Homo sapiens: one gene and its partners. The protein of the gene in region 4 interacts with the protein of the main gene of each other region in a pairwise test. Each region holds a gene or a part of one and is shown on either strand. Other genes may lie near its edges.

Region 1 (5,777 bases), on a different chromosome or scaffold from region 4:
CGAGCCCTGCCCCGCGGGGAGGCAGCTAAGGCCCGGCGAGAAATCGAGCGCAGCGCTGGTGGGCCGGCACTGCTGGGGGACCCAGTACACCCTCCGCAGCTGCTGGCCCAGGTGGTAAGCCCCTCATTGCCCGGGGCCGGCAGGGCCAGCCGGCTGCTCCGTGTGCGGGGCCTGCCAAGCCCACGCCCACCCGGAACTCCAGCTGGCCCGCAAGCTCCGCGCTCAGCCCCGGTTCCCGCTCGCACCTCTCCCTCCACACCTCCCTGCAAGCTGAGGGAGCCGACTCTGGCCTTGGCCAGCCCAGAAAGGGGCTCCCACAGTGCAGCGGCGAGCTGAAGGGCTCCTCAAGTGCCGCCAAAGTGGGAGCCCAGGCAGAGGAGGCACCGAGAGTGAGCAAGGGCTGTGAGGACTGCCAGCACAATGTCACTTCTCACTAGGATTATAAGGGTGAGCCACCACACCCAGCTCTTTTATTACAGTATAATGTTATAATTTTTTTCTTTTTCTTTGTTTTTTTTTTGAGACGTTTGAGACGGAGTCTCACTCTGTCGCCCAGGCTGGAGTGCAGTGGCGCGATCTCGGCTCACTGCAACCTCCGCCTCCTGGGTTCACGCCATTCTCCTGTCTCCGGAGTAGCAGGGACTACAGGCGCCCGCCGCCAAGCCCGGCTAATTTTTTTTTTTCTATTTTTAGTAGAGATGAGGTTTCGCCGCGTTAGCCAGGATGGTTTCGATCTCCTGACATCGTGATCTGCCCGTCTCAGCCTCCCAAAGTGCTGGGATTACAGGCGTAAGCCACTGCGCCGGGCTAATTTTTCTATTTTGTTATTGTTGTTAATCTCTCTTTTTTTTTTTTTTTTTTTTTTTTGAGATGGAGTCTCTCTCTGTTGCCCAGACTGGAGAGCAGTGGCGTGATCTCAGCTCACTGCAACCTCCACCTCCCAGGTTCAGGTGATTCTCCTGCCTCAGCCTCCCGAGTAGCTGGGGTTACAGGCACGTGTCACCATGCCTGGCTTATTTTTGAATTTTTGTAGAGACAGGTTTTCCCCATTTTGGCCAGGCTGGTCTCAAACTCCTGACCTCAGGTGATTTGCCCGCCTCAGCCTCCCAAAGTGCTGGGATTACAGACGTGAGCCACTGCGCCGGGCATTGTTGTTAATCTCTTACTGTGGGTAATTTAGTAATTAAACTATAAGAGGTATGTATGTATGGGGGAAAAAACAGTAATATAGGGTTTGGTGCAATCTGTGGTTTCAAACATCTACTGGGGGTCGTAGAACATATCCCCAGTGGATAAGGGGGTACTACTGTACTTGTTGGCTCTTCATGTTAGCTCTGCTAGGCAGATGTCATTTCAGAGATGAGGAAGCAAGTTCAGAACGGCTTGGAATCTTGCTCAGGAAATCGGGCTGGTTAATGAATAACAAGAGATCCAGTTTCACAAACCCAAGGCATTTTGCCCCCAGAATCTGGGCTTCTTCACCCATTTAGGCTGTCACTACTTTTTTTTCACTTTTTTATCCCTGTTTAAGTCAGTCTGACCCACAGTTGTCCTCTGCTGACTTCAGAAATAATAATCTGGCCAGTAGACATTTGGTTTCGGTCCTTTAGGCCCTTCGCCCCAGGCATCGTTCTCTATGGTGGACAAAGTTCAGAATGGAAGATGGGAGAAAGGTGATTCTGATTCTAGAAGCACCCATCCCTCCTACCCCATTCCCCACCCGCATTACCTGCCATCCTGTCAGCACAGTCTGTCTCTGAAGTGCTCCAAGTTTTCTCTAAGGGCCCATTTGGACTCCCACTCTCAAGACTCCTCACTTGCCCAGAAAGCTCCTTGCTGACCTTCTCTGTGTCTTCCTCTCACCCATTCCCTTAGGCCTCCCTAATATCCCCTCCCAGGGTCTCCCTATCTTGATCCCAGAATCTTCCTTCTACAGGTCTGCTACAATGCTGCTGCTGCACAGAGCTGTGGTCCTCAGGCTCCAACAGGCCTGCAGGTAGGCCAGCCCATCCCAGGACTTGCCTCCTAGCCCCTATCTGCCACCCTTAGTGTCTTTTACAATGTCATACCTTGCAAATAAGACAGTTGAGAGAGTGTGTCCAGGGAGGACAGAGAAAGCCAGATCCCACTTTTCCCACCTATCCCTGGAGAAACTAAGTTCCAACTTAAGGAACCAATGGCCAACCAGGGAGAAAGAAGTAGACCCCAAGCCTTCACTAGCCCTTTCACATGACCATACGTGCTACTAAGACCGACCTCTCTTCCAGACTCAAGTCAATCCCCTCAAGGATCTGCATTCAGGCCTGCTCCACAAATGATTCATTTCAGCCCCAGCGCCCCAGCCTCACCTTCTCTGGTGATAACTCCAGCACCCAGGGATGGAGAGTCATGGGGACCCTATTAGGTCTCGGTGCAGTGTTGGCCTATCAGGACCATCGGTGTAGGGTAAGTAGGGAAAGTGCTTCATTGTCAGAACAGACTGGGTGCAGTGGCTCACGCCTGTTATCCCAGCACTATAGGAGGCCAAGGTGGGTGGGTCACTTGAGGTTAGGAGTTTGAGACCAGCCTGGGCAACATGGCAAAACCCCATCTCTAGTAAAAATTAGCCAGGTGTGGTGGTACATACCTGTAATCTCAGCTACTTGAGAGGCTGAGACACAAGAATCACTTAAACCCAGGAGGCTAAGTCTGCAGTGAGCCAAGATCAAGATCAGGCCACTGCTCTCCAGCCTGGGTGACAGAGTGAGACTCCATCTCAAAAAAAAAAAAAAAATTGTCAGAATAAAGGAATCAGTCCTAGTAAACTCCACAGGCAACCCAGGCTGTGACCCATGTTCTTGTAGTTACCACAGAGTTCACAGTGACGCAGTCTTCATGCACAGTGGAGATGAAATCTGCTAATCTGCTACCTTCGCTTCCCAGTGGCCAACACCGTGGGTTGGGTCAGGGTGAGCTCAAGTGATTTCTTCTTATTCTTCTTCATTTTTTCTTTTTTTTTTTTTTGAGATGGAGTTTCACTCTTGTTGCCCAGGCTGGAGTGCAATGGCATGATCTCAGCTCACCACAACCTCCACCTCCCGGGTTCAAGTGATTCTCCTGCCTCAGCCTCCCAAGTAGCTGGGATTACAGGCATGCACCACCATGCCCAGCTAATTTTGTATTTTTAGTAGAGACAGGGCTTCTCCATGTTGGTCAAGCTGGTCTTGAACTCCCGACCTTATGTGATCCGCCCACCTCGGCCTCCCAAAGTGCTGGGATTACAGTTGTGAGTCACCACGCCCGACCAAGTGATTTCTTCTTAATAGTCTCTTCCCTTTTATCTTACTCCTTCCCTGCCAATAGGCTGCTCAGGAGTCAACACACATATACACTAAGGAGGAAGTGAGTTCCCACACCAGCCCTGAGACTGGGATCTGGGTGACTCTGGGCTCTGAGGTCTTTGATGTCACAGAATTTGTGGACCTACATCCAGGGGGGCCTTCAAAGCTGATGCTAGCAGCTGGGGGTCCCCTAGAGCCCTTCTGGGCCCTCTATGCTGTTCACAACCAGTCCCATGTGCGTGAGTTACTGGCTCAGTACAAGATTGGGGAGCTGAATCCTGAAGACAAGGTAGCCCCCACCGTGGAGACCTCTGACCCTTATGCTGATGATCCTGTACGTCACCCAGCCCTGAAGGTCAACAGCCAGCGGCCCTTTAATGCAGAGCCTCCCCCTGAGCTGCTGACAGAAAACTACATCACACCCAACCCTATCTTCTTCACCCGGAACCATCTGCCTGTACCTAACCTGGATCCAGACACCTATCGCTTACACGTAGTAGGAGCACCTGGGGGTCAGTCACTGTCTCTTTCCCTGGATGACTTGCACAACTTTCCCAGGTACGAGATCACAGTCACTCTGCAGTGTGCCGGCAACCGACGCTCTGAGATGACTCAGGTCAAAGAAGTAAAAGGTCTGGAGTGGAGAACAGGAGCCATCAGCACTGCACGCTGGGCTGGGGCACGGCTCTGTGATGTGTTAGCCCAGGCTGGCCACCAACTCTGTGAAACTGAGGCCCACGTCTGCTTTGAGGGACTGGACTCAGACCCTACTGGGACTGCCTATGGAGCATCCATCCCTCTGGCTCGGGCCATGGACCCTGAAGCTGAGGTCCTGCTGGCATATGAGATGAATGGGCAGCCTCTGCCACGTGACCACGGCTTCCCTGTGCGTGTGGTGGTTCCTGGAGTGGTGGGTGCCCGCCATGTCAAATGGCTGGGCAGAGTGAGTGTGCAGCCAGAGGAAAGTTACAGCCACTGGCAACGGCGGGATTACAAAGGCTTCTCTCCATCTGTGGACTGGGAGACTGTAGATTTTGACTCTGCTCCATCCATTCAGGAACTTCCTGTCCAGTCGGCCATCACAGAGCCCCGGGATGGAGAGACTGTAGAATCAGGGGAGGTGACCATCAAGGGCTATGCATGGAGTGGTGGTGGCAGGGCTGTGATCCGGGTGGATGTGTCTCTGGATGGGGGCCTAACCTGGCAGGTGGCTAAGCTGGATGGAGAGGAACAGCGCCCCAGGAAGGCCTGGGCATGGCGTCTGTGGCAGTTGAAAGCCCCTGTGCCAGCTGGACAAAAGGAACTGAACATTGTTTGTAAGGCTGTGGATGATGGTTACAATGTGCAGCCAGACACCGTGGCCCCAATCTGGAACCTGCGAGGTGTTCTCAGCAATGCCTGGCATCGTGTCCATGTCTATGTCTCCCCATGAGCATGGAAAGGAGCCACCTCCACCCCTTTCCCCACCCATTAGCCTCACTGCTTCAGAAAAATCTTTCCCACCTTTCAACTTCTTGGATCACAACTCTGGCCTTCCTAAGCCATACCCAAGTACACATATAGCACATTTCACCCAAGGACCTTCCCTCTTTGGACACTATGTTACATACCCCTCTTGGCCTTTGAACCTGTGCCAGGAAGTGTGAGCTGTTACAGCAAGGGGCTAGAAGTGAAAAAAGTAATTCTGGAGACAAGCACTATTTTCTCTTCCTACCCCACCTCCATTTCTAATGCCTACTGCCATCAAGGCCTTGTTTTGCTTTTCTTTTTGGATTGTTCAGAGAAATGTGTGTGGCATGTGTAAGAAAAGTGTATATACTATCTTATACTACCTCTCCAGGTTGCCAGAGAGTTGCGAGGAGAGCAAGGGGCACAACCGTCTCCCTTTATAGTTCTACTTTTCTAATAAATAGTCTGTTTAAGATCATAACTCTTGGGCCTGGGGAGTGAGCCTATTGCAGGAGGAAGGATGCATTTGTACTGGGATGTATAATGAGATTAGACCAAAACAAACAAAACTGGGGAGGAAGACAGAGAGGAAGTAGGCTTGTAGGTTAAGAAGTAGGGCTTCCGGCTGAGCACAGTGGCTCACGCCTGTAATCCCAGCACTTGGGAGGCCAAGGCAGGTGGATCACTTGAGGTCAGGAGTTCGAGACCAGCCTGGCCAACATGGCAAAACCCAGTCTCTACCAAAAATACAAAAATTAGCTGGGTGTGGTGGTGGGTGCCTGTAATCCCAGCTACTTGGGAGGCTGAGGCAGGAGAATCGCTTGAACCAAGGAGGCAGAGGTTGCAGTGAGCCGAGATCACACCCACTACACCCCAGCCTGTGCGACAAAGCGAGATTCTGTCTCAAAAAAAGGGGGGCTTCCTTCTCTGAGGTTTGGCAGTATCTGCAGGGACACCTAGGTGATTGACCTCAGGATACCATGAAGAGAGGAGAGGTGACAAAAACAT
Region 2 (7,379 bases), on a different chromosome or scaffold from region 4:
AGGTCAGGAGTTCAAGATCAGCCTGGTCAACATGGTGAAACCCCATCTGTACTAAAAATACAAAAAATTAGCCGGGCATGGTGATGGGCGCCTGTAGTCCCAGCTACTCAGGAGGCTGAAGGCAGGAGAATAGCTTGAACCCAGGAGGCGGAGCTTGCAGTGATCCAAGCTCAAGCCACTGCACTCCAGCCTGGGCGACAGAGCTAGACCTCGTCTCAAAAAACAAAAAAGTAATTAAAGATTAGTTTGGTGTGGTGGCATGCTTCTGTGGTCCCAGCTTCTCAGGAGGCTGAGGTGGGAGGGTTGCTTGAGTCCAGGAAGTCAAGGCTGCAGTGAGCTGTGATCATGCCATTGTACTCCAGCCTGGGCAACAGAGTGAGACCCTATCTCCAAAAAAAAAAAAAAAAAAAAAAAAATTCCCTGCTGCCGGGCGCAGTGGCTCACACCTATAATCCCAGCACTTTGGGAGGCCAAGGCAAGTGGATCACAAGGTCAGGAGTTTGAGACCAGCCTGGCCAATATGGTGAAACCCCGTCTCTACCAAAAATATTTAAAAATTAGCCAGGTATGGTGGCAGGCGCCTGTAGTCCCAGCTACTTGGGAGGCTGAGACAGGAGAATCACTTGAACCTGGGAGGCAGAGGTTGCAGTGAGCAGAGATCGTGCCACTGCACTCCACCCGGGGCGACAGAGCAAGACTCCGTCTCAGAAAAAAAAAAAAAAAAAAGGGCCGGGCGCAGTGGCCCATGCCTGTAATCCCAGCACTTTGGAAGGCCGAGGTGGGCAGGTCACGAGGTCAGGAGATCGAGACCATCCTGGCTAACACAGTGAAACCCCGTCTCTACTAAAAAATTCAAAACAAAAATTAGCTGGGCATGGTGGCTGGCGCCTGTAGTCCCAGCTACTCGGGAGGCTGAGGCAGGAGAATGGCATGAACCCGGGAGGCAGAGCTTGCAATGAGCCAAGATCGTGCCACTGCACTCCAGCCTGGGCGACAGAGCAAGACTCTGTCTCAAAAAAAAAAAAAAATTTCCCTCTTTGTACTTTGTTGTGCTTTTCTCACACTTTCTAAATTGAATGTGAATTGTTTATTACAGGAAAAACACACAGTAAATGTTATTGTTAAGATCCCAAAAGAGGGTAGGCACAGTGGCTTATGCCTCTAATCCCAGCACTTTGAAAGGCCAAGGTGGCTGGCCGGGCGCGGTAGCTCACACCTGTAATCCCAGCACTTTGGGAGGCCGAAGTGGGTGGATCACGAGGTCAGAAGATCGAGACCATGCCGGCTAACACAGTGAAACCCCATCTCTACTAAAAATACAAAAAATTAGCCAGGCGTAGTGGCGGGCTCCTGTAGTCCCAGCTACTCAGGAGGCTGAGGCAGGAGAATGGCGTGAACCCGGAAGGCGGAGCTTGCAGTGAGCTGAGATCGCGCCACTGCACTCCAGCCTGGGCGACAGAGCGAGACTCCATCTCAAAAAAAAAAAAAAAAGAAAAGAAAGGCCAAGGTGGGAGGATTGGATTGGTTGAGGCCAGGAGTTCAAGACCAGGGAGACCCTTCTCTACACACACACATGCATGAAAGTAAACATTTCCCCCTACCAGGGGCAAGGCCCCTCTCCTGCAATGTTGAAAATGTTGGCAGTGGCTCACGCCTGTAATCCCAACAATTTGGGAGGCCAAGGTGGGTGGATCACCTGAGGTCAGGAGTTTGAGACCAGCCTGGCCAACACGGTGAAACCTTGTCTCTACTAAAAATACAAAAATTAGCCGGGCATGGTAGCACATGCCTGTAATCCCAGCTACTTGGGAGCCTGAGACAGGAGAATAGCTTGAATCTGGGAGGCAGAGGTTGCAGTGAGCCGAGACCGCACCACTGCACTCCAGCCTGGGTGACAAAAAAAAAAAAAGTTGAGGCCAGGCGCGGTGGCTCACCCCTGTAATCCCAACACTTTGGGAGGCTGAGGTGGGTGGCTTACGAGGTCAGGAGTTCAAGACCAGCCTGGCCAAGATGGTGAACCCCCGTCTCTACTAAAAATACAAAAATTAGCTAGGCATGGTGGCAGGCGCCTGTAATCCCAGCTACTTGGGAGGCTGAGGCAGAGAATTGCTTGAATCTGGGAGGCGGAGGTTGCAGTGAGCCGAGATCACGCCACTGTACTCCGGCCTGGGTGACAGAGCGAGATTCCATCTCAAAAAAAAAAAAAAAGTTGAAAATGTGATAAGAGGAGCTTGCTAGCTGGGCCATGCTCTGTCATGGGCCATAACATGGAGCCATGGAGCAGACAGTCCTACGTCCTGGCCAGTACTGGACCTGTAGCTTCCTAGATTCCTGCTGCCCTGGCCCCTCTGAGCATCAGTACTTCTTATATGCAGTGGTGCAGTTAGGTGAGTGGCCACCAAGCTCTTGACTAGCTGAGTCTCTGTCTGACCAGGCCAAGGGACCCCCAACCCTAGGCAGTTGGGGATATTTAGACCCAAGTCAGGGGAGGCCAGAGGCCTAACTACTTTTCAGTCCATGGGACAGGTACCCAAATGCTTTCTGGAACCACTACCCACCCCAATCCCAGCTTCCTTCCTTAAGAGCTGAACCGGCCAGGCAGCTGACCGGATGCCCACACCCACCTGAGCACAGCCTGTAGTTGACCCACTCCTAACTGGGTAGCTTCTCCCATCCCTCCTTGATGTCCCCAGCAGGGGAAACTGAAGCAGGGCCTGAGGTGACAAGGGGCTCCAGGCATGGCAGGCTTTTCCTCCCTGCACAGGGGGCAGGTCCTTTTACTGGAGCTGGAGCATGAAAATGGGTAACTAACTACTCAAGACAGTGAGGTCAGTGGGACAGAGGGTGGGTCTCTCCATGGTCCACAAGGTCACAGGACTGAGGCCTTGCCCTCCCTCATGGTCACCCTCTCCTACCTTCTTGGGTCTCCTCAGGCATGGCAAGCAGTGGGCAGTCGGGGGCCAATGATGGCATCCAGTAGCAGGACTGGACAAATGCAGCAGTGGCTCCTTTGTGAGCCCAGGGAAGGCCTGGCTGCCTCCCAGCCTTGGCCTAAAATAGGCCTGAGCTCAGCCCACTGGGCTATATTTAGAGGGGGCAGCCCTCAGCCATGGGAAGGGGCAGAGTGATCCACGTGGGCCAGCCTGAACTATCTACCTGGTGAGGGAGCCAGCCAGGAGCCTGCCTCCACTAGTCCAGGTGCCCAGGGACCTTCAAGGGGAAGCACACCTCCCCCATACATCCAGAATGGCCACTCCAGGCTCAGCAAGGCCCCATGTGGCAGCCAAGACAGACAAAGGAAGCCTGTGCATCTCTATTTGGCCACCCCTCTACCCCTGCAGACTCCTACCCACAGCCCAGTCATCTCTCCTCCCAGCAAACACAGCAGCCTCCACTGCATGACCTGCTAGCACACAATGCTATTGTTGTGTGTGTCTTATAGAGGGTGATGGACAACTGAATCCCAATGCCATGAGGGCTCTGATAGCTTCACAAGTGGGCAGATACACCAACAGCACCCATGCTGGCCAGTGGGTGGACCTAGGTTGGAGGCTGGTTCATTTGTTACTAAGCTTGCAACCTTAGGTAAAGGGTCTCCCCTCTCTGAACTCAGTTTGCTCATGTGTAAAGTCGGAATAACAGTGGCTCCTCCCTGGCAGTGTACACTGAGAACAACATCTGGAGCATTTAGCACAATCCACGGTTTTGGTCTTCCCCTGCTCCCATCTCCACAAGGGCAGACAGGTCCCATAAGGTTGTGTAAGGATGCGCATCACTGCTTACCTTGAAAGGAGGAGGTGGTCCAGCTTCCAGCTTTCCCTCTGTGGTTGGATCCCTGTGCCCTTCCTTCCCAGTGGGGGCAAAGCAAGACTGTGGGCTCTACTTCCTACACACCTCAAACCTGTCACTCCGTTGTCTCACACTGGCCTCCCTGATGTTCCTCAAAGTCAACAAGCTTGTTACCACCTCAGGGGCTTGGTGGTGGCTGTTCCCTCCTGGAATGCTCTGCTCCCAGATAGCCCTGTGGCCAGCCCCGTCTTGTCAGCGAACTCAAATGCCACCCCTTCAGTGAGGCCTTCTGTGTACATTCTTTTCCACATCACCCAGTTTTCTTTTCTTTGAGACAGAGTCTCGCTCTGTTGCCCAGGCTGGAGTGCAGTGGGGCGATCTCGGCTCACTGCAACCTCTGCCTCCCTGGTTCAAGCAATTATCTTACCTCAGCCTCCTGAGTAGCTGGGATTAAAGGCGCGTGCCATCACACCCACCTAAGTTTTGTATTTTTAGTAGAGACAGGGTTTCACCATGTTGGTCAGGCTGGTCTTGAACTCCTGACTTCATGATCCGACTGCTTCGGCCTCCCAAAATGCTGGGATTACAGGCGTGAGCCACTGCGCCCGGTCCAGTTTTATTTTCTTCCTAGCACTTAGTCCTGAAGTTATATTATGCACAATGTACCCTGCGTGTCACTATTCCCAAAGGCCCTACAGAACCTGTTCAGTCACGCGGAACCACCTTTTTTTTTTTTTTTTTTTTTTTTTTTGGAGTCTCGCTCTGTCGCCCAGGCTGGAGTGCAGCGGCGAGATCTAGGCTCATTGCAACCTCCACCTCCCAGGTTCAAGCAATTCTCCTGCCTCAGCCTCCTGAGTAGCTAGGATTACAGGCGCCCGCCACCACGCCCGACTAATTTTTTGTATTTTTAGTACAGACGGGGTTTCACCGTGTTAGCCGGGATGGTTTCCATCTCCTGACCTCGTGATCCGTCCGCCTGGGCCTCCGAAAGTGTTGGGATTACAGGCGTGAGCCACCGCGCCTGGCCGGAACCACCTTTAATCCTCACCAGGCAACCTTGGACAGGAGAAACTCGGGCCCTGACACCGCTAGTAAGGTGCCCAAGACCACATAGCAAGGCCGAGGACTGGGGTTTTCTGCTGGGGCCATTCCAGCTTTGGCTGATAATGCGTTTATTGCGTTACTTTAGTACAGTCGGCCTGCCTCGCCCCACCTCCAGCAGCCCAGCCTGTTCACAGCTTTCTGCTCACTGCTCACTACCCAAGGAGGTGGGGTCTGTCTCCCAGGGTGGGCACTCCAGGCACCTCCTCGGCCCTGGTCGTTGCTCTGGAGCTCGGCTTCCCCGTCCCTTCCCTCCGGCTGAATCCTGCGCCCGACCTGTGCCGCCCTCCCGGGGCTGCTACATTCAAGGGTTATCCTGTTAATAAATAAGCCCGCGCAGCTGCCCTCAGCCAGGGCCTGTCGGTTGGTGTCTCCATCGGCCGGTGACCCCCAATGTGCCCGGCCCCAACCCGTCCTTCTTTTCAGGGTCTGTCTGGCTCCTCTCTCGCCTGTCGTCTCCTGCTTGGTTCCCGGCGTGGGGACAGTCTGGTCACCAGTGCGTTGCGCTGCGCGGCCCCCGCTCAGCGCGAGGCTCAGGGGCGTGGGTCCTCCGGTTACGGCCCTTTCTCCGCGACTCCAGGGGCAGTGACTGCAGCGCAGGCTGCGGGCGGCACATGCGCAGGGAGTTCGCGCTGCCACCTCCGCCCGGCTCCACCAGCTGCAGAAAGTCCCGGTACCAGAGTTTGGGGCCCGGCGGCGCGGCGGGCGCAGCCTCCTCGGCCCGCGCCAGTCGTTCGGCCTGCGTAGCACTCAACACGTGCAGCGACAGGCGACGCAGCGGTTGCGTAAAGCCCTGCTCGACGGCGGCGCACAAGTACACGCCCGAGTCCCGGCGCCGCAGCCTGCGCAGCAGTAGTCCCCGGGCGGTGCGCTCGGTGCGCTCCTCTGCCAGCACCTGCGGGCAGAGGGCAGCGTGAGGCGGGGGTGTCGGGCCGGGAACAGGGCTTCCGGGCCCTAGCACGCGACGGAAGAAGCAAAGAGTCATTGGGAGCCGAGGTGGAGCGGGAAAGGGGTGCCCGCAGGCGCACATTTTAAGGCTGAGTGTTTGGGAGCTGGTGGTCTTCAAGGGAGAATCCGAAAGAGGCGGGGTTTACATGAACTTGGTGGGGGGTGGTCAGGGACCTTAATGGGAGGGTCGAGGGCGGGTCTTCTCCTTGATTCAGGGGAGGCGGGTCGGGAGCCCCGTTGGACGCAATGGGGCCTCAGCAGCTTGTGGAGTGCAGGTGAGGGACCAAACTGGACAGGGCGGGGAGTGGGTCTGGTTGGACGGGGCTTCGTTGGGTAGGGCGGGGCCTCTCCTGGATGCAGGGGGTGGGACAGGAGCCTGGCGGGGAGGGCGGAGTAAGGCTCACCTGGGTGTGGGCTGTCACCCCTGCGCGCTGGAAAGTCCACTCCACGCGCGCCTGCAGCGAGCGGGGCTCACACTCCAGAAAGGCGCTGCTGCCCTCCACGCCGAACACCTTGTGTTCCAGCAGCGCGGGACGAGACGAGTCTTGGGGCGAGAAGAAAGTCAGATTTAGGCAAGGCAGGGCAGGTGGGGCGTCTTCTGGGGCTGAGGGTAGGGGCAGCTGGGGCACTCACCTCCGGAGCACAACGTGCTGGGGTCGCCATTCCTTACGTCTTGCCGCCGGAACCGCCTGTGGGGAACATCCGATCTTCTGTGAGCCCTTCTTTCAGCCCCGGGCAGTGAAAGACCCTTCGCCTCCCTCCCGGCGGCCCAACCCCGACCCCGCCCACCTCTTGGCACTGGGCTGGAAGCGCGTGCACGCGACCCCGTCCCAGGCGCAGTAGGGGTCACGCGCCAGACAGCATTCGGTGCAGACGCGGCCGTGGGCAGCGCAGCGGTGCAACGCGATCTGGGCCACCGCGCTCCGCGAGGCTACGTACAGCTGGTGCTAGGGGGCACGAGGGGCTCTGGGCTGACCGAGGGCGACCCCACGCCTGCCTCCCATCGGTCAGGGATCCCTTCTTCCACTCGACAGATGGGAACACTGAGGTCTTACGCCTCAGGTCACACAGTCTAACAAAGCCAGAGCCTGTACTCAAACCCGGGACTGCAAACTACCAAAAGGGGCCAGAGGCTTGGGACGCGCCAGGCACAAGCTCAGTCCATCCCACCCCGACCCCCATCCTGGTCACTCACCCTCTTGGAAGAAATTTGCATGCTGGTGACAGCGGCCGAGTCCTGAGAGGGAGGAGGGGCGACGGGGTCAGGGCTTAGTGGGGTGGGGGGGTCCCGGGCGACTGGGGGTGAGGCCTCACCTCAAACACGTGCAGCTCCTCCAGGAGCAGCCCCTCTGCGCTGGGCCTACTGCCCTTGGGGACCGAGATCACCTTCAGCACCGTGCCAACGTCTGCAGGGATGAGAAGGGGTAATGACCATTGGTGCTCCCGGACAGCTGGGGCTAGTGTCTCCTCGCCTTTGAGGCGTCTACCCTCAGCATGTTTGGGTTGTGAAGAGTGTGGACTGGAAGAGTGTGGGTTGGGCA
Region 3 (7,027 bases), on a different chromosome or scaffold from region 4:
CTTGGCAAAAGCATGGAAAAACCAGCATTATTGCTGGGAATGGAAATCATTCAACTTCTCTATCAACTGTTATCAAAAGTGAAAATGCAGGCCCGGGTGTGGTGGCTCATGCCTGTAATTCCAGCACTTTGGGAGGCTGAAGTGGGCAGATCACTTCAGGTCAGGAGTTCGAGACCAGTCTGGCCAATATGGTGAAACCCCGTCTCCACTAAAAATACAAAAATTAGCTGGGTGTGGTAGAGTGTGCCTGTAATCCCAGCTACTTGGGAGGCTGAGGCAGGAGAATCGCTCGAACCTGGGAGGCAGAGGTTGCAGTGAGCCAAGATTGCGCCACTGCACTCCAGCCTGGGCAACAGAGCGAGACTCCATCTCAAAAAAAAAAGTGAAAATGCACGTGCCTTCTTATCCAATAGTTCCATTTCCAGGAATGTGCACAAAGGTATATGTAAAAGAACATTCACTGCAGGCATTTTTGGGTGGGAGGGTGGCAAAAGGTTGGAAACCACCTGCCTATCCATCAATAGGAAATTAGTTAAATAAATTATAGTATATCTATACAATGAATTACTGTGTAACCAGTAAAAAGAATGAAGTAGAGCTATACTTATTAATATGTTAAAAATAAAGTGGAGGCCAGGCATGGTGGCTTCATGCCTATAATCCCAGCACTTTGAGAGGCTAAGGTGGGAGGATCACTTGAGCCCAGGAGTCTGAAAGCAGCCTGGGCAATGTAGGGAGACACAATCTCTACAGAAAATTAAAAAGTTAGCCAGGCGTGGCGGTATCCGCCTGTGGTCCCAACTACTCAGGGGGCTGAGATGGGAGGATCCCTGGAGCCTGGGAGGTCGAGGCTGCGGTGAGCTGTGATTGTGCCACTGCACTCCAATCTGGGCAACACAGCAAGACCCTGGCTCAAAAAAAAAAGTGGACAAGACTATATTCCACTTTTGGGATATATATTGAGCATCAGTGCCAGGCTTTGTTCTAGGCACTGGGCATAAAGCAGTGACCAAAGTAGACACTACTCCCAATCCTCTATGAGCTTTCATTTCAGAGGAGGAGTTTCACATATGCATGTATCTACACAGAATACATCTGGAAGAATATGCAGTCATCTGATGACATTAAGTGTTCCTGGGAAGGAGGCCTCAGGGTCAAGGATGAGAAGATTTCTTTTCACTCTAACATTTTGTACCATTTGAAAGTTTTATAAGGCATGTATTAATTTTTCCAAAATTAAAATTTTAAATTACAAAAATTGCATGTAGCAGAACAGAGAAGAAAATTTTTAAAGCAGGCAGGAGGATGGGCAGCCTGATAGGCTGTACCTTGCATCCTTAGTTAGGTTCTTGCTCCGTGTTGCTGCTTGAAGGCTATACAGAAAGAATCTTTGCCTCCTTACCCTATTTAGAGCCACTGCTGACTCCACCGGTTTGAAATAGTAAAGATTAATTTTCCACAATGAGATATTGGCATTGCTCCCAAATATTTCATGGAAGTGGCATGCCTTCTTTGAGGCAGTTGTCTTAGTCATTAAGAGTTCTTTCCAGCAAAATCGGGGCATCAGTGCCCCACACTGGATTGGCGGGTGGTGGGGGGGTGTCAGTGCTTTGAGTCAGACCCAGTCAGGCTTAAAACTCCTAAAGAGACAATTTCCAGATAACTTCAGCTTTATTTTTAATGCTTTTTGCCAATAATTTGATCCCATCAGAACAGCTCCCATGGTACCATAATTCATATATCCTGTTTTTATTTGTATAGGAACCTAGGAGAAAGAGAAGGAAAATTGAAAATAAATTAAGTCAAATGCAATACTTGTGCTAAAAATGTTGTCAAAAGTTGAGGCCACTTCTAGGCAAAATGTTGGAGGCAGAGTTTGCCTTTCAGTCTCTTTCTCATTTTCAAAGTTTTCCTTTCTGTCTTGCGTTGTGTCTTCAGATGCCTCCACATTCTGCCTACCACTAGAGCACCCACTCTCCTATCTGCCTAGAGCACACACATCTGTCATCATCAGGTGCTCATCCAGGGTTCACCGCCATCAGGCAAAGGACCACTTAGCTTATCTTTTTCATAAACTAATTTATGCTTAGATATGAATGACTACCCAGGCTGCCTAAGCTCTTAATAAATCAGAAACTTGCTGCAGAGATATAGAAGTTTGATGTGAAACAAGTTCATATTCAATTGGAGGTATCTCTAACAAACATTAAAGTGATTAATCTCACTAGTAATACCACCAGCACCCTCATTTTACAGAGTAAGAAACTGAGGCCCAAAAAAAGTGTTAATTGGACCATAGTTAATACTGACCTTGCCTGCGTTACATTAGGCATTGTAATCCAATACCTTGGATTACATTATTTTAAAAGTTGCAGTGTAGACCTTAAGTAACTGTTTAACAAACAACCTCTTGATTAAATAAGCATTTAAAAGTAAGTTGTTATTAAGACCTAACATTAGCTATAACTTTATTTTAGGTAGTACTTGAAGAAGTCTTTCTTCTGCAAAATATCCTTGTCTCATGTCACAGAACAACCCTGCATGTCTTGAAATGCATGTGACTTGTTAGTGCTTAAATAACAATACATGCGGTATGTATATATTCTTTACCTTAATTCCTACTTCTTTGATCTGCTTCTCTAAATATAAGTAATTCCGTAGCAAATGCATATTTTCCTCATTTTTATACTTTAGTTTTTTTTAAAAAAAAAAAAAAAACAAGAAAAAGAGGTAATTGGCAATATATCCTTTTTTTTTTTTTTTTTTTTGAGATGGAGTCTTGCTCTGTCACCCAGATTGGAGCGCAGTGGTGTGATTGATCTTGGCTCACTGCAGCCTCTGCCTCCCGGGTTCAAGCTATTCTCCTGCCTCAGCCTCCGAGGAGCTGGGATTACAGGCACACGCCACCATGCCTGGCTAATTTTTGTATTTTTAGTAGAGATGGGGTTTCGCCATGTTGGCCAGGCTGGTCTCGAACTCCTGGCCAGCCAGGCTGATCTCGCCCTCCTGGCCAGGCGCAGTGGTATAAGCCAAATAAGAATTGCTTGAACCTGGGAGGCAGAGGTTACAGTGAGCCGAGATCGCGCCATTGCACTCTAGCCTGGGTGACAGAGGAAGATTCTTGTCTAAAAAAAAAAAGTGGTATAAGCCACTGCGCCCGGCCAATATTTTCTATGTTTATAGCAAAATTGTTCAAAAACTGCATATGTACCTACAATATTTTTTCTTAAGAAATTCAAGTTTTGGGCTGGGCACAGTGGCGTATAGCTGTAATCCTAGCACTTTGGGAGGCCGAGGTGGGTGGCTCACCTGAGGCTAGGAGTTCAAGACCAGCCTGGCCAACATAGTGAAACCCCGTATCTACTAAAAATACAAAAAATAGCTGGGTGTGGTGGCTTGTGCCTGTAATCCCAGCTACTTGGGAGGCTGAAACACAAGAATCACTTGAACTCGGGAGGTGGAGGTTGCAGTGAGCCAAGATCGCGACACTGCACTACAGCCTGGGCAACAGAACAGATTCTGTCTCAAAAAAAAAAAAAAACGAAAAGAAAAGAAATTTGAATTTGTGTTTTGAGTTTGCCTTGAATTATTGTCAGGAGACAATAATTCTGTCATAAGGAGATAACTGGAAAAAATAGGAATGGGTTTTATAAAACAATCATTGACTCAATCTCTAGCTCTTCTACTCTAAAGTCAGGTAATATGTGGTGCATTAGGTTAGGACTTTTATGTTAGTCATATGATGCATGGGTAGATCTTTCTATGTTTTCTCTTTGAAAACTACTAATCTGCTACTCCTTTTGGCTATAACTCACAAACTCTTTTCTCTTCAGACTATATAAAGACTTTAGCTAGAATGCTTCACTTTTTTATTAAAGAAATTGCTGTTTCCTTCCAAGGACAAACATTTTAAAAATAAATGATATGGGTCATTCATTCGGCAAATATTGGACTGCCTGTAGTAGATTAGGCACTGTGTAGGACACTGGCAATATACTGATGACACAAGCTACCCGCTGCCCCTTAGCAAGTCATTTTTGCAAGTCACTTTTATGACATATTTATCTGAAATAGCCCATCACTTATTAAAATCACCTGTGACATCATGGCCTGGCACGGTGACTCACGCCTGTAATCCCAGCACTTTGGGAGGCCAAGGTGGGTGGATCCTTTGAGGTCAGGAGTTTGAGACCAGCCTGGCCAACATGGTGAAACCCCATCTCTATTAATAAAGTATAAAAAATTAGCCAGGATTGGTGGCAGGCACCTGTAATCCCAGCTGCTCGGGAGGCTGAGGCAGGAGAATTGCTTGAACCTGGGAGGCAGAGGTTACAGTGAGCCGAGATCGTGCCATTGCACTCCAGCCTGGGTGACAGAGGAAGATTCTTGTCTAAAAAAAAAAAAAAAATCTGTGACATCAGCTAATAGGTTAACTTAATTAAAGAGAGCAATTCTGGCCAGGCACAGTGGCTCACATCTGTAATCCTAGCACTTAGGGAGGCCAAGGCAAGCGGATCACCTGAGGTCAGGAGTTCAAGACTAGCCTGGCCAACATAGTGAAACCCCATCTCTACTAATAATGCAATGCCTGGTGTGCACCTGTAATCCCAGGTACTCAGGAGGCTGAGGTAGGAGAATGGCTTGAACCCAAGAGGCAGAGGCTGCAGTAAGCGGAGATTGCACCACTGCACTCCAGCCTGGGAAACAGAGTGAGACGCCGTCTCAAAAAAAATAAATAAAAATAAAAATAGGTATTCAACTTATTGCTTAAAAATGTATACAATTTCTTTGTAAAATTGTTACTGAATTTTTATTTTAATTCTTTTTTTTTTTAATAGAGACAGGGTCTCACTATGTTGCCCAGTTTGGTCTCAAACTCCTGGGCTCAAGTGATCCTCCTGTCTCGGTCTCCCAGAGTGCTAGAATTACACGTGTGAGCCACTGTGCCCAGCCTGTTACTGGATTTTTCTATCATTGCACTTATTTTTTAATGTCTATAAAAAATTTGAAAGACAAATATATTAATACTTATGTTTTATTTATGCTTCCAAATAACTACACAAAATCACTTTCTAAAAGATGACTCATCTATGCTTTGCAATTTTTCTGCCCATGCATTTCTTCTCTGTGCCACCTCTCTTCTGTGTTGATGATAGGAGAGTACAGTTGTCTCTCAGTACCTGTTAGAGATTGGTTCCAAGACCTTCTCATGGATTCCAAAATCCACAGAAGCTCAAGCCCCTGATACAAAATGGCATCACATTTGCACATAACCTCTGGACATCTTCCGGTGTACTTTAAATTATCTCTAGATTACTTATAATATCTAATACAATGTAAATGTTATGTAAAAGATTGTTATATTGTATTGGTTAGGGAATAATGACAAGACAAAAGTCTGTACATGTTTATTACAGACACAACTATCCTTTTTTTGTATGAATATTTTCAAGCCGAGACTGGTTGAATCCACAGATGCAGAACCCACAGATATAGAGGGTCATATCCATGCATTAATAAAAAGTTTATGATTTTTACTTAAATTAATCAAGAAATAGTGGTCCCATAGGTCCTTTGAATTGACTTGGTTTGGAAACATATGGAAAAAATATTCCTAAAAAAGTATTTATAAAAAAAAGAGAAAAAAAAACAAAAAAGAAAACTATTGAAAAGCCGAAAAAAGTTATAAAAGATGAGAAAAAATTAAAAATTGTGAGTATTCAGATAGCAATTCTTATCAACATGAAATAATATAATATGGTTATGGCAGTTCATGAATAGATATTTGAACTATATCTTTACATAAGTTAAACTGTTAAAATTTATACCCTTAGCAGAAGGCAAGATTCCACCGGATGCTACATTGATTTTTGAGATTGAACTTTATGCTGTGACCAAAGGACCACGGAGCATTGAGACATTTAAACAAATAGACATGGACAATGACAGGCAGCTCTCTAAAGCCGAGGTAATTCAAACCAATTTCATGTGTATAGTCTAATTTTTTTATCACAGTTTAAATACATCTGTGTTACAACTATTACTTTTTAGGTCTAGCTAGCATGGGCTCTGATCACTGCTTTTATAGAGCTGGTCACTAAAAAATAATCTAAGCGCTTAGAAAAAGCTCTAAGCTTTTTCAGTATAAACCTTGTGAGTCATCCTGTTCAATTGCCTTTCTCCCTGCAAGAGAGTCATTAAAATCCCGAATTATTTGTCTCTACAGTGCTCTTCCAGTTTCTAGATTACACTAGCATATCTCTTTTTCAGACAGCACTGTAAGAATTTGCAACAGGGCAAATAATTCACGCCTCATAGGATGATGAAAAGAGCTAGCAAGGGTCTGAATTGAGTGGGCTAGAAAGTTGGTAAACAGGAGCCAGAAGTTCAGCCAGCTAGCGTCTGTATCTCAGCCTTGTAATAAAGATCTTGTAATAATAATGATAATTGGGCTGGGCATGTGGCTCATGCCTATAATCTCAACACTTTGAGAGGCCGAGGTGGGAGGATTGCTTGAGCCCAGGAGTTCAAGACCAGCCTGGGCAACACAGGGAGACCCCCGTCTCTACAAAAGATTTAATAAATTAGCCAGGCATGGTGGTGCATACCTGTGGTCCCAGCTACTCAGGAGGCTGAGAGGTAGGAGGATCGCTTGAGCCCAGGAGGTTGGGGCTGCAGTGAGCTGTGATCATGCCACTGCACTCCAGCCTGGAAGATAGACTGAGACCTTGCCTCCAAAAAAAAAAAAAAGATAATAATAGATAACATTTATTTTATACTTTTAGTACCAGGTACTATTTATAAGCACATAAGTATGTGAACTTATGTAATCTTCATGATAGTTTATGGGGCAGACACTATTGTCATCATCTTCGCTTTTAGATGGGGAAAATAATAATCAGGTTAATCAGCCAAAAATCACACAGTAGTAAGGGGCAAAACCTGGGCAATCTGGCTTCATGACTGTTCTTACATTTCAATTTTTTAAATTTTTCTTAGAGACAGGGTCTTTCTCTGTTGCCCATGC
Region 4 (7,027 bases):
ATCACACTCAGGGAGAGAGGCCAGACACAAAAGGACGCACAGCATGTGATCCCATTTCTTTTTTTTCTTTTTTGAGATGGAGTCTCGCTCTGTCGCCCAGGCTGGAGTGCAGTGGCGTGATCTCGGCTCACTGCAACCTCTGACTCCCTGGTTCAAGCAATTCTCCTGCCTCAGCCTTCTGAGTAGCTGGGACTACAGAAGCCTACCACCACGCCCGGCTAATTTTTGTATTTCTAGTAGAGACAGGTTTCACTGTGTTGGCCAGGATGGTCTTGGTCTCCTGATCTTGCGATCCGCCTGCGTCGGCCTCCCAAAGTGCTGGGATTATAAGCATGAGCCACCGCGCCCGGGCTTATATTTTTAAAGCGTAAGCTTTGTGGCATGTAAATTATATCTCAATAAAACTGTTTAGGGAAACACACGCTGATACCCATCTTCCCCCCACGCCCTCCTGAATTGGGATCTCGGGGGCGGGAGTGGGTTTCTGTCTTCAGGGCTCTCAGTTCTAGGATAGCAGCTGGGGTTTTTACCGTCCTACCAGCTGGGACCCATGCCTCAGATAGAAGCCCCATTGCCTATGAAATGAGAAGGTATCACATGAGTATTCCAAAATACAGGCCTCCACTTGGGCTCTTTCCAAAAGCAATAGCGAAAGGGACAGTTTCCGTCCCCGGGCCGGTGAGCTGTATTAACTGTTCTGCTCCCGGGGTCGCCATCCAGGCAGTGACAGCCACCGTCGCCAGGCACAGGCCAGGCCAGGCCCTGCCGCCCCCACCTCCATCCCCCTTAGTGGATGTAGATATGATTGTTTGCGACTAGCGAACCCCCTATAGATGCAGATGCCTCCTGAGCCGGCATCTGTGTTGAGTCCTGGCTGCCCAGAAGAGCCAAGTGTGACGCCCCCTCGGGTCTGTGTGGACACCAGGCCGGTGTTTTCCTCTCTCCCTGACACCCCCTCCGGTCTGTGTGGACACCGGGCCGGTGTTTTCCTCTCTCCCTGTAGGAAACGAGCAGATGAAAGTGGAAAACTTTGAAGCTGCCGTGCATTTCTACGGAAAAGCCATCGAGCTCAACCCAGCCAACGCCGTCTATTTCTGCAACAGGTACCAGCTCAGGGCCTGCCCAGGGCAGGGGCGGCCGGGTGCGGGGGCGTCCTCCGGGATGCTTAGCAGGGACCTGAGATGGGAGAGGCCTCTGCGCTGTAGATGAGGGATCCATTCACCGGTGGTCTCAGACCAGGAGCGAGCATCAGGTGACCAGCAACGGGGTCGGGGAGAGTCGATGCTGATTTAAAATCAGGTAGCACGCCCAGCACTCTGGGAGGCCATGGGGGAAAGATCACTTGAGGCTAGGAGTTCGGGACTAGCCTGGGCAACATATCAAGACCCCCGTCTCTACAGAAAATGTAAAAATTAGTCTGGGGGCCAGGCGCGGTGGCTCACGTCTGTAATTCCAGCACTTTGGGAGGCTGAGGCGGGGGGGATCACTTGAGGTTGAGAGTTCAAGACCAGCCTGGCTAACATGGTGAAACCCCGTCTTTACTAAAAATACAAAATTAGCCGGGTGTAGTGGTGGGCACCACCAGTTACTCAAGAGGCTGAGGTATGAGGATGGTTTGAACCTGGGAGGCAGAGGTTGCAGTGAGCCAAGATTGCGCCACTGCCCTCCATCTTGGGTGACAGGGAGACTCTGTCTCAAAAAAACCCCGAAAAAAACCACAAAAATTAGCTGGATGTGGTGGTGGGTGCCTGTAGTCCCAGCTACCTGGGAGGCTGAGGCAGGAAAATCACTTGAACCCGGGAGGCAGAGGTTGCAGTGAGCTGAGATCGTGTCACTGCACTCCAGCCTGGGCAGCAGAGCAAAACCCTGTTTCAAAAATAATAAATACATAAATACATACATAGAAAATCAGGTATCATGGCATTCCACGTGGATGTCAAGCCAAGAAAATAATCCAGTATGTGGAGGGTTGTGTTTTTTGAATGTGTGGTCTTGGATCTGCTTCAGGCTTACAGGACAGTTGCAGAGGCAGTGCAGGGTTCCTGGCCGCCTGTCATGGGGTAGTTTAGTCTCCACTCACTCTTCTCTGTACTTTGAAAAAATTGTAAAGAGAAACACTAAACACGAAAATGGTGAAGACGATTCAGACGCTGTAAGCCAAGAGCTTTGAGCTTTGACATTGGTCTGAGTTCTTTTTTTACTGATATGTAAATAATTTGTGAATGAAACTTGGGTATAAGTTCCCTACCCTCATTGCTCTTGTACAGCCATGGATCGGAACATTTTTTGCAAATAAAATTCAGAGTCGCAGTCCTGAGTGGCTGCTGGTGCTTTGAGCCCACATTTGTCTAAGAGCATCTCAGTGGCCACACCTCTCAGCTTTCCCCATCAGCCCCATTTTACAGATGGGGAAAACTGAGGCCGTTCCTCCAGGAAGTTGGAGAGGAACGCAGCTCTCAGGCTCCCCTCAAGGGCTGCCCGCTGGGCTCAGAGCCGCCAGTGAGGGACCTGCCCTGCCTTTTCTTCCCCAGAGCCGCAGCCTACAGCAAACTCGGCAACTACGCAGGCGCGGTGCAGGACTGTGAGCGGGCCATCTGCATTGACCCGGCCTACAGCAAGGCCTACGGCAGGATGGGGTGAGTGCCTGTCCACGGCCGCGCCTTTCCAGTCTCTCGGGACCCCTCCTCTCCTGCTCCTGCTTCCTCTCTTGTGTGGCTTTTTTCCCACCCACAACGAATTCTCCCACCCCGGTTCAGTTCAACTCTGACACTAGCTGTTCGGAGCCAACGTAGTCCCTACAGGTCACAGGCTCAGCCCCACAGACGCCCCGCATCAGGTGCCACCCGGAGATCCCTGGGCCCCTTGCTTCTCCCTGACTGGCTGTCACCTGGGGTTCCCATGGCTCCTACTCAGGCTCCATTGTTTGCTGGGGCGGCTCACAGAGCTCAGGGAAGCACCTGGTTTATGATGAAGGACACAGGACAGGTCCGAGAGTGAGGCCAGGAGGGTCCCCGGGGCAGGAGCCTGCGCCCCGTGCAGCCGGTGCCGCCCTCCCAGCATAAGCGTGCATTCGCCTGCTTCTCTGAATGCCCTTGCTCAGAGTTTGTGGGATTGGGTCTCCCCAGAGGCTGGGGAGGGGCCCTGTTCAACTGCCCAGTCTCCCCAGGACCCGCCTCCTCCTGGGCTCTGTAGGGGCCCTGAGTCACCTCACGAGTGAAGACTCACTCAGGTGGGGGTCAGGGGCTGCTTGTGGATGACGGGAGACATGTCTGTCGCTCAGAGGTTCCGAGGGTCCTTGGTGCCCTGTGCCGGGAAGCGGGGCCAAGACAACATCCACGCATTTCCTGTGACCCTGAGCTGGCCCGCTCCCTCCTCTCAGCCCGCTCTGGGCTTTGAGGCCCTGTGTGTGGCCCCATGGGGACTCCAGTTCTTGTGTGGCAGGGGTGTTCTCATGTCTGTCTCCCTCAGTCCTGCCCCTGGGCCCCTCGAAAGCCAGGTTTGTCTCCACTGAGCTGACAGCGGGCAGGGGGTGGCACCATCCGAGGTGGTTTGGGGGTTGCCAGGACCGCCGGGGACGAGGGCTTTGGCGGGGCCTCCTGGAGCTGGGCAGATGGGAACAGTCCATCCCCGGTGCTCTCCTCCAGCCTGGCGCTCTCCAGCCTCAACAAGCACGTGGAGGCCGTGGCTTACTACAAGAAGGCTCTGGAGCTGGACCCCGACAACGAGACATACAAGTCCAACCTCAAGATAGCGGAGCTGAAGCTGCGGGAGGCCCCCAGCCCCGTGAGTGCAGCGGGGGCGAGTGGCTCCAGAACGCCGAGCTGACTGTGTGGGTGGGGGACAGGTCCTCGGGCGCACCAGTGGCTCTAGGCTTAACCTGGGTGTCGTGAGGGTCCGGGGTTTGTTTCAGTTGGTGGTGAGATGCACAGGCGTGGAAGTGAGTGTCGTGAGAAGGTTCATGCCCCCAGACCCCTGGAAGCAGGAGGCCGGCCGCAGGGCTGCCCGCGGAGGCTGAGGGAGGGGCACAGAAAGGACCCTCGATGTGGGTTTTGTGGCGAGGCCGGGTGAGGAGGCTTCGGGTTGGCTGGTTGGAGCCATTTCATTAGACCCAGGCCTGGGGGCTGCCCCTGGTTGCCTGGTCCCTGGCCTGGGGGTGAGTGGGGCAGGTGGACTGTGGCCCTGGGGTGATGGGGGAGGTGCTGAGGGTGTGGGTTCTGGGTTAGTTTGTTTGTATTTCAAAGGTGCGTTTCTGGGTGAGTCATTTGCTTTCTCTGGGAATTGGCTACTCCAGGAGGGGGCGGCTCTGCCAGGCCAGCAAGGCCCCAAGGTGTCAAAGCGGCAGAATACAGGAAATCAACACGGGATGATAGACTGTGCCGTCCCCGGGCGGTCGCGCTGTACGGGGAATAAACACGGGATGATAGACTGTGCCGTCCCCGGGCGGTCGCGCTGTGCGGGGAATAAACACGGGATGATAGACTGTGCCGTCCCCGGGCGGTCGCGCTGTGCGGGGAATAAACACGGGATGATAGACTGTGCCGTCCCCGGGCGGTCGCGCTGTGCGGGGAATAAACACGGGATGACAGACTGTGCCGTCCCCGGGCGGTTGCGATGTGCTTCGTGCTGCCTGCCTCAAAGCACCCTCTGGCCGCAGGGTTGATAGAATGTCTGAGCCCCGTGGGGGGCCGTTGTTTCTGAGTTCCAGGGGGTTATTCACCGTGGCCTCTGGTCCAGGCCCCACTAACCAGGGCTGTTCTCATCCTCAGACGGGAGGCGTGGGCAGCTTCGACATCGCCGGCCTGCTGAACAACCCTGGCTTCATGAGCATGGTAACGGCCCGCCCCTCCTCCCTGTCCATGGTGTCTGCGCCACCCCCCAGGCCCGCATCTGCTGTGTCCGCTACTGGCCAGGGCTTCCTTGCCTTGGCACTGCTGGCTTCTGGAACCAGATGGGTCTTGTCTGTGGGGTCGTCCTGGGCACCGCAGGGCGCTGGCAGCACCCCTGGCCTCACCCGCCCCATGTCAGGAGCACCCCCACCCTCTGCTTCGACAATCAAAAGTGTCCCCAATGTTGATGTCCCAAGCAAGACCCATCAGTAGTGAGCACCAAAAGCTGGCTCTCCTGGCTGAGCCCAGGGAGGTCACACCCCCACCCCACCCTGGCGTGGGCTCCTCCTCGCAGTGCAGAGACACTGATCACAACACAGCAGCGTCTGCCTCCTAAGGTTCAGGCAAGGGAAGCAGAGCGCCGGGTGCGCCGGGCGCAGGTGGACCTCCCGATGCCCGGGCACTCATGCTTCCAAAGGGACGGCCTTTGGCAGGGAGTTCCTTGACTGGGATCCTCGGAGAGCCATCCCCCACACACACATGTTCATTTCCTGGGAGGTCTGTGTGCCCTGGGACCACTCTTCAGGCTCCCACAGCCTCAGGGTACAGGGACTCGCCTAAGGCTGTCGGGGAGAAAAGCCCTCAGTCTCACTGTCAGTCAGAAAAATGAGCCAGCTGGGCCAGGAGCCCTGCCCGGGTCGTGCCATTCAGCAGAGGCCACACCTCTTACTGTAGCCCTCGTCCGCTGGCCAAGCTGCCAGGGGAATATGTTCTCCCTCACCATGGGATGGAGGGTGACTGGGCCCCAGTCTTTCAAGGGGCCTCTCAGCTTGGCCATGTCACAGACGCCTTTTCCCTTCAGACATCTGGGGTTGGCAGAATAAGGCCCGCCGCTGGGTTTTGTTAATAAAGTTTTTTTTGGTTTTTTTTTTTTTTTTTTTTTTTGAGATGGAGTCTCGCTCTGTCGCCCAGGTTGGAGTGCAGTGGTGTGATCTCAGCTCACTGCAACCTCCGCCTCCCAGGTTCAAGCGATTCTCCTGCGTCAGCCTCCCGAGTAGCTGGGATTACAGGTGCCCACCACCATGCCTGGCTAATTTTGGTATTTTTTAATAGAAATGGGGTTTCACCATGTTTGCCAGGCTGGTCTCGAACTCCTGACCTTGTGATCCACCCGCCTCGGCCCCCCAAAGTGCTGGGATTACAGGTGTGAGCCACTACACCTGACCAATAAAGTTTTATTGGCACACAGCCATGCCCATTCATACACCTAGTGTCACTGGTGGCTTTCATGATACGGCGGCAGAGCTGAGTAGTTGCGTCAGGCACCCGTGTCTGAAAAGGCTGAGAGTATTTACACACTGGCCCTTTACACAGAGAGTTTGCCACACCTCTGAGCCACCTCCTTTCAACAGGTCCAAAGGAATAATCCCAAGTGGAAAGTTAACATGAGAAAGTGCCCAGTATAGTGCTATTTATTTATTTATTTATTTTTACTTCTTTTTTGAGACAGAGTCTCACTCTGTCACCCAGGCTGGAGTGCAGCGGTGTGATCTCGGCTCACTGCAACCTCCCCCTCCCAGGTTCAGGCGATTCTTGTGCCTCAGTTTCCCAAGTAGCTGGGACTACAGGCATGCACCACCACACCTGGCTAATTTCATATTTTTAGTAGAGACGGGGTTTCACCATGTTGGTTAGGCTGGTCTCGAACTCCTGACCTCAAGCGATCTGCCTGCCTCGGCCTCCTAAAGTGCTGGGATTCCAGGCGTGAACCACCGCGCCCAGCCACAGTGCTATTTATTGATAGAGCAAAACTGGAACCAAATATGCTAAATGAAATATGCTAAAGCAGACAGCAGCTAAAATAAAGAACCAAAACGCCTCCACACAGCAAAACCGCAGCAGCCAGTGAGAGAGCGCTGTGGCGCTGCGAGATCGCTCCTGAAGCAGGAACCCAAAACAGGATTTAAGTCACAATGTGGAGGTCACAGCTCGTGGGTGGGGGGGCGAAAATGTAGGGAAAAGGGTATGAAAGACCGAATGCCCGGCTCTTACTGTTGGTTGGCGTGCTGGAGTCCAGAACCAAGGCTGGTTAAGATGGAAAGTGTCTGATGAAAGAGAATGATGCGCTGGGAGCTTTGTCTTCCTGACAAATTTGTTCTGTTCTTCAGGCTTCGAACCTAATGAACAATCCCCAGATTCAG

What was found.
Region 1: the proteins of SGTA (region 4) and SUOX interact in binary tests that used the Homo sapiens proteins (3 or more experiments, as listed by UniProt).
Region 2: the proteins of SGTA (region 4) and LSMEM2 interact in binary tests that used the Homo sapiens proteins (3 or more experiments, as listed by UniProt).
Region 3: the proteins of SGTA (region 4) and FKBP7 interact in binary tests that used the Homo sapiens proteins (3 or more experiments, as listed by UniProt).

What each region holds. Positions count from the first base shown.
Region 1 is NC_000012.12:56,000,276-56,006,052, forward strand, and holds the end of SUOX (sulfite oxidase, mitochondrial), read left to right. Parts: intron 1-1,936; 5' UTR 1,937-1,946; coding exon 1,947-1,996; intron 1,997-2,267; coding exon 2,268-2,445; intron 2,446-3,342; coding exon 3,343-4,752; 3' UTR 4,753-5,250; downstream 5,251-5,777. UniProt on the Homo sapiens protein: Catalyzes the oxidation of sulfite to sulfate, the terminal reaction in the oxidative degradation of sulfur-containing amino acids.
Region 2 is NC_000003.12:50,274,708-50,282,086, reverse strand, and holds the start of LSMEM2 (leucine-rich single-pass membrane protein 2), read right to left. Parts: upstream 3,001-7,379; 5' UTR 2,974-3,000; coding exon 2,916-2,973; intron 1-2,915. Other genes in the region: SEMA3B (semaphorin-3B isoform 3 precursor), read right to left, coding at 5,381-5,785, 6,243-6,382, 6,472-6,527, 6,628-6,785, 7,034-7,075, 7,153-7,244.
Region 3 is NC_000002.12:178,468,593-178,475,619, reverse strand, and holds part of FKBP7 (peptidyl-prolyl cis-trans isomerase FKBP7 isoform a precursor), read left to right. Parts: intron 1-1,652; exon of another isoform or gene 1,653-1,765; intron 1,766-2,477; exon of another isoform or gene 2,478-2,591; intron 2,592-4,095; exon of another isoform or gene 4,096-4,183; intron 4,184-5,834; coding exon 5,835-5,968; intron 5,969-7,027. UniProt on the Homo sapiens protein: PPIases accelerate the folding of proteins during protein synthesis.
Region 4 is NC_000019.10:2,759,262-2,766,288, reverse strand, and holds part of SGTA (small glutamine-rich tetratricopeptide repeat-containing protein alpha), read left to right. Parts: intron 1-1,003; coding exon 1,004-1,103; intron 1,104-2,531; coding exon 2,532-2,636; intron 2,637-3,644; coding exon 3,645-3,783; intron 3,784-4,766; coding exon 4,767-4,829; intron 4,830-6,994; coding exon 6,995-7,027. UniProt on the Homo sapiens protein: Co-chaperone that binds misfolded and hydrophobic patches-containing client proteins in the cytosol. Mediates their targeting to the endoplasmic reticulum but also regulates their sorting to the proteasome when targeting fails.